Homo sapiens: one gene and its partner. The protein of the gene in region 2 interacts with the protein of the main gene of each other region in a pairwise test. Each region holds a gene or a part of one and is shown on either strand. Other genes may lie near its edges.

The links. Proteins that work in one complex are often made in the same cells at the same time.
Region 1: the proteins of UBQLN4 (region 2) and SMAD9 interact in a two-hybrid assay, tested with the Homo sapiens proteins (one large-scale study listed by BioGRID and IntAct).

What each region holds. Positions count from the first base shown.
Region 1 is NC_000013.11:36,878,659-36,882,385, reverse strand, and holds part of SMAD9 (mothers against decapentaplegic homolog 9), read left to right. Parts: intron 1-1,608; exon of another isoform or gene 1,609-2,097; intron 2,098-2,510; 5' UTR 2,511-2,696; coding exon 2,697-3,108; intron 3,109-3,727. UniProt on the Homo sapiens protein: Transcriptional modulator activated by BMP (bone morphogenetic proteins) type 1 receptor kinase. SMAD9 is a receptor-regulated SMAD (R-SMAD).
Region 2 is NC_000001.11:156,043,799-156,047,298, reverse strand, and holds part of UBQLN4 (ubiquilin-4), read left to right. Parts: intron 1-3,075; coding exon 3,076-3,301; intron 3,302-3,500. UniProt on the Homo sapiens protein: Regulator of protein degradation that mediates the proteasomal targeting of misfolded, mislocalized or accumulated proteins.

The sequences.
Region 1 (3,727 bases), on a different chromosome or scaffold from region 2:
TCAGACAGACAGTTTGAAGAAAAATGTATGGTTTAGGAGTAGTGCTTTTCAAACTTTTTTATTGTAACCCAACTTAACAAGTAAATTTTCCATTGTAACCCTGGACACATACACCGCACACACATACACACACACACACACACACACACACACACACAGCACATACCTGTGAATGAAAATTTTTCATGAAATGATTATTATTATACTTATTTTTCGTCAGCTGCTCTGCAATAAAGTCTGTTTTGTTTTGTTGTTTGTGCAAAAGCTGTTTTGTTCCAATTCATTGATTTCACATGCCATTGGTAAATAGAAACCCACAGTTTAAAAAAACGAACCAAACAAAACCTGGTTTAGGGAACTGTTGTTTCATGGAGCAAAAGTTTCTAAAAGGTGTATTTGGTTTAACTCGCTGAGTGTTTTTATAAAAAGCTTTTCTCTATGACTGACCTCAGCTTAAAGATCTATACCACAACTTACTAATAATGAGTTCCATGTAAAACTAAGCAGAATTCACAACTCTTTTGGGGTTCAGGTTATTCTATCATGAGACTTCTCCTTAAAGCTTCTAACCCTCTTCAGCCATTGCTTTAAGGCAGCCTGACTAGATTAAGTAAACAGAACTTGAACACAATGACTTAACTATACTTTATAAATTCATGATTGTTAAGCCACAAAATCAACCTTTCCAAATAAAACTGAGTGTAAGTCAAACTGCCAAGCGAAAAGAGCAGCTATGGAGCTCTCAACTCTCCCTTTTGTCATAGTTTATCTCTGTACAATGCCAGATAAAGCCCAGATGAGGAATAAAGTGATGTGACTATTGCTTTATACTTATTAAATCTCATCCGTTATTGTGGGACCATGCTGCCATCCTCCTCACCTGAGGTGCCCGATAATGATCACCCTAGCGGGGGGTTATAAGGCACCTTTGTTCGAAAGAAGTTTATAGAATTGGACTCAGAAAGGTACAGCTTGCCCTCCAGGGAAGCAAAGGAGAAAATTATATTTAATGCATATTAAACAAACAATTGTTGGAGATTATAAGCTACATCGATTCCAAGATCCCAAAATACTTGAGTCAGCTTACTCCAAAATGTTACCAGCCAGCCACTTTAAACATTAATGAGGTAGCTGGTTTCTAAAATCTGGAAGGAGGAGGAGGTTTTGTTTAAGCCAACTATTTCACAGAAGAGGAAATACAGTTCGACCTCAGGAAATTTAAATGAGACTGCTGAATAACTGGGAAAGAACATCTCCTGTGGATGACAGGGCAAAGAAGAATTAAGCTGATTTTAGGCCAAATAACAAATGTGACAGCTGTGCTTTTTTGTGTATGTATTGGTGTGTGATAGTGTATAATTTCTAGAAAAGCAGTTCTCATGCATTTGGGTCTTGAAAATTTCCACTTTTAAAAATTATTGAGAACTCCAAAGAACTCTTGCTTCTGTAGGCTGTATCTATCAATTTTTACCATTTTAAAAATTGAAACTAAGAAATTAAAAAAATATTGATTGAATCATTAAAAAAACTGTATTAACATAAAATATTTTTATTTAAAACATTGTTTTCAAAAAAGTTATTGAGAAGAGTATTATTGTTTTATATTACTGCAAATCTATTTAATACTTGGCTTAATAAATGGCACCTAGATTGTCATCTTTTCTCCATATACTCTATTGTGTTATGTTGTTTTGGTTGAAGTATGTGAAGCGAAGTTAGTTCACACAAATAAGTAATTGGAAAAGAGAGAACCTCATAGTCCCCTTAAAAGGATCTCAGGGGACTCCCAGGGATCCTTGGGGCACACTTTGAGAGCCACTGTCCTGAAAAGTAGTTTGGAAGACTATGTTAAGAATGGCTGTCCAGGAGTGGTGAGATTATTCACGATTCTTTTTTTCTTTTCTTTTCATTAGTATTTATTTTCTACAAGAAGATGGATTGCTTGTGCAAACTAAAAATGAGAAAGAAAGAACATACTCATGTTGAGGGCAGATTATGGAGGCCCTGGAAAAACCCAGGCAGAGGAGTTTACACTTGGGAGACCAAGGAGCCACTGTCATTTCTTAAATGGGAAAATGATAAGAGCTGTGTTTGGGAGTAAGTGAATTCGAATTGAAAGAGAGAAAGAGAGATGCTACTTCAGAGAAGTGGTGTGGTGAGTCAGACCTCAGGTGTTGGCAGAAATGGAGAGAAAGGACAAACTCCAAAGACTTTGAGGGCAGAATGACCTGAGACCTGGATATAGGAAATACAGGAGAGGGCAGAGTCAAAGACAACAGTTTTAAAATTAAAACATTTGAAGAATGTTTTTTCCCTTCTATCCAACTTTGGGGCCTGGTTCTGTTGCTCAGGCTGGAGTGCAGTGGCGCAGCCTTGACCTCCTGGGCTCGAGCCATTCACCCACTTGAGTAGCTGGGACTGTAGGTGTAGATTGCCTCTTTCTATCCAACTTCAACTTTTTCTGAATGTTACTCCGATTAAGCTAATTGAAGTCTTGTCGTGTTTTCCAGAGTTGGCCACCCTGTTCAAGGGCTTAGGAGAAAGTCAACACACTTCGCAACTTGAATTGGTCCCAGCTGCTCCCAGAAGAACGGGCGGGTTGGTCCCTATGCCACCCCTGGAGAGCTACTCGCCGCCCACTTTGCCGTGAAGGGCTGTGCGGTTCCCGTGCGCGCCGGAGCCTGCTGTGGCCTCTTATGCACTCCACCACCCCCATCAGCTCCCTCTTCTCCTTCACCAGCCCCGCAGTGAAGAGACTGCTAGGCTGGAAGCAAGGAGATGAAGAGGAAAAGTGGGCAGAGAAGGCAGTGGACTCTCTAGTGAAGAAGTTAAAGAAGAAGAAGGGAGCCATGGACGAGCTGGAGAGGGCTCTCAGCTGCCCGGGGCAGCCCAGCAAATGCGTCACGATTCCCCGCTCCCTGGACGGGCGGCTGCAGGTGTCCCACCGCAAGGGCCTGCCCCATGTGATTTACTGTCGCGTGTGGCGCTGGCCGGATCTGCAGTCCCACCACGAGCTGAAGCCGCTGGAGTGCTGTGAGTTCCCATTTGGCTCCAAGCAGAAAGAAGTGTGCATTAACCCTTACCACTACCGCCGGGTGGAGACTCCAGGTGGGTCGTCTTTACGACGTCAAGGTTTATTTTCAGAGTGAAGGTCGTGTGCCCCATTGATGGAGAATGATGGGGCACCAGCAGACAGGGACCTCTCCCAAAAGAGAGAGAGAGAAGAGAGGAGAGGGAGGTTCAGTTTTGAGGGACTCGTCCAAAATTTTGTTTCCCGGAATGAGGCAGCTGTCCAATCAAAGAAAGTTCCCATGAAAACGATATTCCTGCCTGGAATGCCACAGGAACACTCAATCCAAAGAGAATCGCAGTAAAACCCTGTTATAGCCAGTGTGAAGGAATGAAGATAAACTAGTCAGGAAAATCTAGAAAGAAGATATTTTCATTTGATTTCATTATGCTGGTAAGCTTTGTGTGATTTTGAAAATGAGGCAGATGGCTAATCGGAGAAAACTGCCATAAAAGTTTTATTTTGAGGTATCTGGGACAAGTCAACATAATCTTTTACCAGTTCTTGGGGTCCTGAAAGGTTTTAAAATGGCCTTGATAATGATGAGCTGTAAAAATTAAACATCCTCCTCCCCCCGCCCCAAACAACTGAACTGAACTGTACTAAACTGAACTAAGGCAGGGTTTTTGGCTGCTACTTTGTTCAAGTTCAGGTAAG
Region 2 (3,500 bases):
GCACTCTAGCCTGGGCGACAGAGTGAGACTCCATCTCAAAAAAAAAAAAAAAAAAATTCACAAGTTACACAAAGTAAACAAAAGGGTATTCCAAAAAAGTATGGAAAAGTATACAGGCTAAAAAAAGGTTTACAGAAGGGATCCCTCTGTTTCCATCTCCCAGCCAGCTCTTTTCTACCTCAGTGGTAACTAATGTTGTTAGTATCTTGTTTATTTTCCTAGACATATTTAATATTTGCAAATAAGACATAGGTAGAGTTGTAGCCTTTACAAACCCCTCCCCTCTCCTATTCTTTTTCTTTCCAGAGGTAACTAGTATGCTGAAGTTGAAGTTGGGGTTTATCATTCTGATTCTTTTATTACCTATGTATATGTCTATAAACGTCTATATATTATCATATTTTTAAATATGAGGTGGTACCATGCTGGTCTTATTATTTTAACTTGCTTTTGTTTTGAGACAGAGTCTCACTGTTTCGCCCAGGCTGGAGTGCAATGGCGCGATCTCAGCTCACTGCAACCTCCACCTCCTGGGTTCAAGCGAGTCTCCTGCCTCAGCTTTCTGAGTAGCCGGGACTGCAGGCTTGCACCACCACGCCTGGCTAAGTTTTGTATTTTTTAGCAGACACAGGGTTTCACCATATTGGCCAGGCTGGTCTCGAACTCCTGACCTTGTCATCTGCCTGCCTCGGCCTCCCAAAGTGCTGGGATTACAGGTGTGAGCCACTGCACTTGGCTGCTTTTTTTTTTTTTAATACAACCTTTAAAAATGTTTTGTGTTTTTGGTTTGTTTTGTTTTTTTGAGACGAAGTTTCACTCGTTGCCCAGGCTGGAGTGCAATGGCGTGATCTCAGCTCACTGCAACCTCCGCCTCCCGGGTTCAAGTGATTCTCCTGCCTCAGCCTCCCGAGTAGCTGGGACCACAGGCGCCCGCCACCATGCCCAGCTATTTTTTTTTTTTTTTTGTATTATTAGTAGAGACGGGGTTTCACCATGTTGGCCAGGCTGGTCTCGAACTCCTGACCTCAGGTGATCCACCCACCTCGGCCTCCCAAAGTGCTGGGATTATAGGCGTGAGCCACCGTGCCCGGCCTAAAACTGACAAACTTTTAAAATATTTGTTTCATTTAAAAATGACAATTTATTACAAGTTGGTGGAGCGTAGTGGCGCATGCCTATAATCTCAGCATTTTGGGAGGCTGAGGCAGGTGGATCACCTGAGGTCAGGAGTTTGAGACCAGCCTGGCCAACATGGCGAAACCCCATCTCTACTAAAAATACAAAACTTAGCCAGGTGTGGTGGTGGGTGCCTGTCATCCCAGCTTCTCAGGAGGCTGAGGCAAGAGAATTGCTTGAACCCTGGAGGTGGAGGTTGCAGTGAGCCGAGATTGTGCCTTTGCACTCCAACCTGGGCAGCAAAACGAGACTCCATCTCAAAAAAAAAAAATTATTACAAGTTAACATAAATAACATTATTTTGAAAAATAACTTTATTTTCCAAAACAAACAAAACTGTAGAGGAAAGTATGGACTTGTTTTACATTTTTGTAGTTCTCTTTGATGTCTAGCTTACTACAAGACAGCTGGTTCTCAGATCTGCATTCAGTTTGCAATGTCACATGTCATGTAGACTTTGGAAAACTCCACTGTATCCTCATGAGAGAATAAGAGTGAAAAAGACAAATTCATGTCTTAGAATTATGAAAACAGTTTTAATGCTTGCAGGGGTCCCAGGACCACACTTTGAGAACTGTTGTATTAGAGGAGTATTATAAGCATTAGAATAAATGTGTCAGGCACATAGTAGGTGCTCAATAAATGATGGTTGTTATCACTGTGGGTAGTTCAGGAAAAGAGATTTCGTCCTTAGAGTGTACCAGGAAGAATAAAGCGAGCCCAGAACAAGGTGGGGTGAGGTGCTAGGCAAGTATCAGAACAAGAAATCTGAAACAGGCACAGAGGCTGAAACCATGGTGCATGAACCCTGGCCTGTGAGCTCTGTTATCTGAACAGGATCTGGTGAGGTGAAGGAAACAGCTCAGAGTAGGAGAATCCTTGGTTAGCCCCGGTCCCCATGACCCACTTTCAATGAACAGGAAAAGCAGCTCAATATGAAACCCTACGGTGGGGAGGGGCTGAGGTAGGACCACCTGGGAACTCAGGAAAGAGAGCTGCTGAGCTCTTAGACCACAAGAAAGGCTGAGTAGGGAAAACTGAGTCTGGGACTCCCTCAGCCAGAGCTCTGTGCTAGGTGCTGGAGGGGAGGAGGTTCCGGTGTTGCCTTTGGGAAGCACACCATCCCATGGGGTATGGACCTGAGATATCCTGGGGAGCACAGTGAGGAGCATGGTAGGGCAAGGGGGACCAGAAGTAAACTGAGGCCTGTCCATCTGAAGTAGCCAGTGTGTAGAGGTAGGGTTTGGAGCAGGAGGGGAAAACCTAGAGAGGGCATATTCTGCTGGAGGTGTGTTCTGCTAGGGGCCGCCACTGTGGTGTGCCTGGATGGACAGAGAATGCCAGGTAGGGGACCTGGGGAGTGAGGGAAAGGTTCTGGGGAGTTAGGATTAGTCCAAGGAGGCTGGGGAAAGGGAAGATCGGGGTTCAAGTAGAGAGCCAGGTTTGACAGCCCACTCCCATTAAGCCAGTAGTTAGTTATTGAGCACCTACTAGTGTCGGGGCTGGGGGTGCACAGGCAAATCTGACATTGCCTCTGCCCCTTGAGGTACAGGAACACAAATATTTGGCTACACAATGGGAAAACTGTGTGTAAAGTGCGGTGGGTTACATAGGAGATGATTAGAGACCAAATATTGAAAGCCACCGGGGGGATGGGAAGTTTCCAATTATCTGAGAGGTTCAGTTATCCAGTCACTAGCATCAGCTAGCTCCCACCCTATGGAGCAAGGAAGGAGCTATCCATTGTGGGGCAAAGAACTGAACTGAGGACCTCTAAGGTCTTAGATCTCTCTCCCTTTTCTGGGGAAGGGGAGGCTATTAAGTGAGAGGAGAGAATGGGCCTAGCCCTTGTCCCTGATTTGTTTCAGTCCTTAACCCAAAACCTTTCCCTCCTCCCAGTTTGGCAACAATCCCTTCTCTTCCCTGGCCGGGAACTCCGACAGCTCATCCTCCCAGCCTCTGCGGACTGAGAATCGAGAGCCCCTCCCTAACCCCTGGAGCCCCTCGCCCCCCACCTCCCAGGCCCCCGGGTCCGGTGGGGAGGGCACCGGAGGATCGGGGACCAGCCAGGTGCACCCGACAGTCTCGAACCCCTTTGGGATCAATGCGGCTAGCCTGGGGTCAGGTATGTCCTAGGATGGAAGGAGCTTAGTGGGGTCACCAGGGCAGCCCCTCTGTCCCAGGACTGAATGGGGTTCATACTGCTCCAGGATTTTGAAGACAGAGGTGAGACTATCGAGGCCACAGAGGGGGCTCTGCCGTCTGGGATAGTGGCCGGGTGAGGGCTGGTTCTGGCCATGTCCTGATATCCCTAGGAGTGACCT